Linked DNA regions of Homo sapiens: region 1 is linked to region 2. A link means that fine-mapping ties the variant in region 2 to the expression of a gene that starts in the linked region. Tissue or cell type: spinal cord. Region 2 holds a variant in brackets; the other region holds the start of a gene. All regions are shown on one strand. Distances are from middle to middle.

What was found. PIP is the estimated chance that this variant, and not a neighbour inherited with it, causes the effect.
Region 1: CNKSR1 starts here. The variant in region 2 is fine-mapped to the expression of CNKSR1 in spinal cord (GTEx, PIP 0.94).

Annotation. Positions count from the first base shown.
Region 1 is chr1:26,176,170-26,178,854 of GRCh38, reverse strand. It overlaps CNKSR1 (connector enhancer of kinase suppressor of Ras 1), which reads right to left and starts at 1,364. Exons shown (of 21, transcript NM_006314.3): 1 at 1,256-1,364. The coding sequence starts at 1,307.
Region 2 is chr1:26,120,249-26,122,933 of GRCh38, reverse strand. It overlaps PDIK1L (PDLIM1 interacting kinase 1 like), which reads right to left. Exons shown (of 3, transcript NM_152835.5): 3 at 1-1,097. The coding sequence ends at 357. Among named protein-coding and RNA genes, the nearest start is that of PDIK1L, 9.8 kb to the right of the region's middle. The variant T/C (reference allele first, on the strand shown) is at 1,449.

The DNA.
Region 1 (2,685 bases), 56 kb before region 2:
TGAGCCACCTCCTTCCTGCACGGTGACTGTATTGGGCTGGTGCCCTCCCAATAGACCCAGGCATTGAGCTACAAATGAACTATGTCATGATTGTCTCACTTTGTCGACTTCATAAGGTCAGAGTTGCCTTTCCCATTTGATGGACAGAAAAACTAAGACCTATGGTCACAGAGCTGGCAAGCGGTGGGGGTGGGCCTGGAATCCAGCCTGGGAGTCTGAACCCAGCCCTGAATTCCTGCCCTTACCCGGGCTGGTCCTCCTGAGCCTGTCTCTAGTGCGCTCCAGCTCCCCACTCTGGGAGGGGTGTCCTGACTGCCTGCTCCTGGTCGCACTGTGTGTCAGGAGGCCCTTCCTTCTCTGAGTCTGCCTGTGGGGTGTGTTGCTTCCCATCTGTGTGGGCTCGCTGAGCCTGGACAGCACCTTGCCCCTTGGATAGGAGCCCCAGGGTGGGGCTGTGTCAACCTCTTCAGTCTGGCCTAGGGCTTCTGCTTCTGTCACTAGGAGCTCAGGGTGTGGAGCGGGGAAAATGACACCAGAGACTGAGCAAATCATTTCCTGGCTCTGTGTGTCAGTTTCTGACTCTAAGAAACGGATTTAACAACAGCCCACTGGCCCTGGGGCCAGGGAAGATGAAGGAGATACAGTGGGTGTGGGCCTGTCAGGCCTCCCTCCTGTTTTCATGACACCGCCTCCCCATTATCACCCTAGAGGCCTCTTGGGCTACTGCCATGATGAGGGGCCCCCTTCTGGGTCCTTGGGCCCCCCAGGGTCATCTCATCTGTCTCTCTGCCCAGCACGGTTCCTGGAACATGTTAGGTGCTCTGTAAATATTTGTTGACTGACTGACCGACTGATAGAGCCCGCAGTTTATTATTTTTTTTTTTCTTTTGAGCTGAATCTCGCTCTGTCGTCCAGACTGGAGTGCAGCGGTGCAATCTCGGCTCACTGTAACCTCTGCCTCCTGGGTTCAAGCGATTCTCCTGCCTCAGCCTCCCAAGTAGCTGGGATTACAGGCACCTGCCACCACCCCCAGATAATTTTTGTATTTTTAGTAGAGACGGGGTTTCACCATGCTGGTCTTGAACTCCCGACCTCAGGTGACCCACCCACCTTGGCTTCCCAAAGTGCTGGGATTACAGGTGTGAACCAGCGCACCCAGTCCGCAGATTTTTTTTCCTTTTCCTCTCCTCCCGCTTCCCGGTGGGACACCACACCTAGTCCCCTTCAAGCCCAACTCTACCCCAGCCCCACCCACCTCTCAGCCAAGTTGCCACCTTTCCGGGGGTCCAGGTCTCTACCGGTTCCATGGCCCAGCTCTGCCAGCTCGAATCAGCTCCTGTTTTGCCCTGCTGTCGCCGGAATTTCCGCTCCCAGAGCCCAGGCCTAAGGAGGGGCCGGGCTGGGTCCTGGGCGGAGCCTACTGCATACCTGGGCTCACACAGACGGCAAGATGAGGCACTGCGACAGCCATTGGCCCACGCCCGTCCGCCTCCTGCCCGGCCCTTCAGACATCCTAGGGCTCTGGCATCTCGCGCCTGCTAGGGGGCAGTGCCACTGGCCTCATATCGCGGGGTGGGACCCTGACCCTTGGGCTCCTCAAGAAAAAGCCACAAGAGGAGCGCTGAAATCAGTAGCAAAGCACAGAGGCTAGGGGGCCAGGTCCCTGGGTGCCTAGGCCAGCTCTTGTTAGCTGTGTGACCTGGGGCTGACCCTAACTTCTGCGCCTCAGTTTCTGGGTCTGTAAAAGAGATATAATAGACCGTACTTCAAAGGGCAGCTGTGCACAGTATCTGAATGGCTTGAAAACATTTAGAACTGGGGTGTTTAGCCTCCCTTGGATTTTGCAGTATGGACTCTGGCATCTGGTGAGGCCTGTGAATGCTTTCTCAGAATAGCTGCTTATAAAGGCATAAAACAGGCCGGGCGCGGTGGCTCACGCCTGTAATCCCAGCACTTTGGGAGGCCGAGGTGGGCGGATCACTTGAGATCAGGAGTTCAAGACCAGCCTGGCCAATATGGTGAAACACCATCTCTACTAAAAATACAAAAAATTAGCTGGGCGTAGTGGGTGCTTGTAATCCCAGCTACTCAGGAGGCTGAGGCAGGAGAATCCCTTGAACCCAGGAGGGGGAGGTTCCAGTGAGCCAAGATCGTGCCACTGCACTCCAGCCTGGGCAACAGAGCAAAACTCTGTATTATAAATAAATAAATAAATGCACAAAACAAAATGCTTAGGATTACAATGAGAACAATTATCAAAACTATATTTAAAAACAAATTTGGCCGGGCATGGTGGTTCACGCCTGTAATTCCAGCACTTTGGAAGGCCAAGGCGGGTGGATCATGAGGTTAAGAGATGGAAACCAGCCTGCCCAACATGGTGAAACCCCGTCTCTACTAAAAATACAAAAATTAGCTGGGTGTGGTGGTGCACGCCTGTAGTCACAGCTACTCAGGAGGCTGAGGCAGGAGAATCGCTTGAACCTGGGAGGCGGAGGTTGCAGTGAGCTGAGATCACGCCTCTGCACTCCAGCCTGGCAACAAAGCAAGACTCCGTCTCAAAAAAAAAACCCACAAAAAACAAAAAAAAAATTTGGAGCTGGGGAGTGCTGGCACACGACTGTAGTCCCAGCTACTCGAGAGGTTGAGAGGTTGAGCGGGGGAGTATCACTCAAGCCCAGGAGT
Region 2 (2,685 bases):
CCTCTTTTCCCATGGAAATTCCTAATACTGACGAGGAATGTCTAAAATACTTAAAGACATATTTCCAGAAAACTGGACTCTCTTCTCTTGTTAGCTCTTAAAGAATTTTCCTGCCAAACTTCTATCAATAATCATTTTTTAAAAATTTACACCCACATTGGTAATACACATTTGAAACATACTAATAAAACGGCCAACTTGGATTTAAGAAAAATGAGGAAAAAAAAAATCCCACAAAAAATCTAAACCCTTAGAGGGTAGAGTCTAGCTTTTTATATTCTTTTTCAGCCACATAATGTTGCATCACTGTTAAACAGAAGCAGCATATCATCCATGGTATTTGCAAATAATATGTGTCACGTTTCCCAGCTGCTATCTTTAAATGCAATTTGTACTAATCTGAGTTCTAGTTCAAAAGCATCTGGACGATCCTGAGGGTTTGCAGCCAGCATTTCCTTAATCAGTTGTTTCATTCGCCCATTCATAGATTTTTTCTTCACAGGAATGAGAAGTTCCATTTTGGGATTTTCCAGAAGTGCCTCCCCAACAGGCACAATCTCAGTTCCTTGTTTTACATAACTCCCCAAGAGTTCCTTCTTTGTCTCTGTGTCTATGAATGTGATCCTTTCCAGCATTGCCCAGATGATAATCCCCAGAGCAAAGATGTCAGCTTTTGCTGTGTAATGTCCTTCCCAAACTTCAGGAGCCATGTAAAAATCTGTTCCACATGCTGTGGAAAGGAAACACTTGTTTACACTGACAGGTTCTTCTGGGTTCTGCCCAGAGGCTGAACAAACTTTACTTAGACCAAAATCAGCCACTTTGAGGGTAGGTTCCAAGTCACTGGTATCCAACCTGGTTTGAGAAATCAGGATGTTATCAGGCTTAAGATCTCGGTGGATGATCTGGTTTTTATGCAAGAAAGCCAGGGCACTGCTCAGCTGAAGCATGAAGCTGGTGTTAGTTTTACGATTGGGTTTCCTGGACAACAGATACTCATTCATATCTCCTCCGTCACAAAAATCCATCACAAACCACAAATAATAGGCGCTTCTGGGATCAAAGGCAATTTCTCCTTTTAATGAAGTTTCTACAAGCTACAAGAAGGAAGAAAAAAGATTACAATCATTTGCATAGGTTATACAATTCAGTTATAGGAAAATAATAATTGAAAGGTTAAGTCAGTCTCCACCTTTAAGTGGAAACTCTATAAATATTTTATTTAATCAGTGCTTTCAAATATGCATTTTAAACTTTAAAAAATGCTTCAACTTGTCATTTTGTCCCTGATAAATATACACCAAAGCTCTAAACCAAGGGGTAAAAATTTTAAAATAGCTTTATTTTGAAAAGCGTCCAAGTGGCCACACATTTTCTCCATGTGTCAGTGGAGCTGAACTCTACCCAGCTAGCTCATAGCTTCATGAAAAGACCAAAGTTTCAGCAGA[T/C]AGACCTAGGAAATTGCCAGCTGGGGTATAAACCTCAATTAGGAAACGCTATTCAATGAAATCGCCTGAAATATACTTCTTACTGATTGCACAGACACTATCAACATAACCTGTGAAATCGAGAGAAAAATGATCAAGGAACAACCAGCTGTTGCAGAAATAGCTGTTCCTGTAGTCACTAATAAAATAAAGACTGACGTCGTTACTTCATAAACTTCTATAGGCAGAATGCAAATACGTTGGCTCTTTCACTGGATGACTTTTAAAAACCAATTTATAAAAATCAAATAGGCATTTTTTAAATTTTTAAATATTTATTTTGTTTTCAAATATGCATTTTGATATTAAAAAATCAACTCTGAATTTGTATATTTCTTCTTTCATACAAGCTGAAAACCTAGACTAAATCACAGTTTTATTTGTTATTATTATCTAGTTATAACGCTCCTTTACTTGAAATTCAATAGAATTACTTCACTGGACATGAACTATCACTCTAAAATACAGTACATAGTCTTTTTTTTTTTTTTTTTTTGAGACGGAGTCTTGCTCTGTCACCAGGCTGGAGTGCAATGGCGCAATCTCGGCTCACTGCAACCTCCGCCTCCCAGGTTCAAGAGATTCTCCTGCCTCGGCCTCCCAAGTAGCCGAGACTACAGGCGCGTGCCACCACGCCCAGCTAACTTTTGTATTTTTAGTAGAGACGGGGTTTCACCATGTTGGCCAGGATGGTCTCAATCTCTTTACCTCGTGATCCGCCCACCTCGGCCTCCCAAAGTGCTGGGACTATAGGCATGAGCCATGGCACCCGGCCCCGTATATTGTCTTTTAAAAGCATTTGTTGTATGGTGCCCTTTTCAGACCCATGAGTTGAACAGAAAAGGCCGAAGAGTTGCTGAAGAGTGAATGAATTGCTAATTTCACATTTAAATCTACTGGTACTTTCTCTACCATCTGGGAAAGCACAAGCAAAGAACATCTCTTCACGCCATCTCTCCACATGGCAGACAATAGTAATTGCGATGATCTGCAGATATCTCTTTTGCATGAGTTTTCCTTGTTGCACATGTTTGCCAGTGAGACAGAAAAATGAAAGAAAGGTACAGATCACATAATTATTTACCAGGTGCACTGATACTAAACATGCTTTTCTTCTTCTGTCTTTACTCTCAAAAGCAAACTTCCTAAATAGCTTTGAGCAATGCAGAGTCCCAGCGTTCAAAGAATGTTTTAGAGT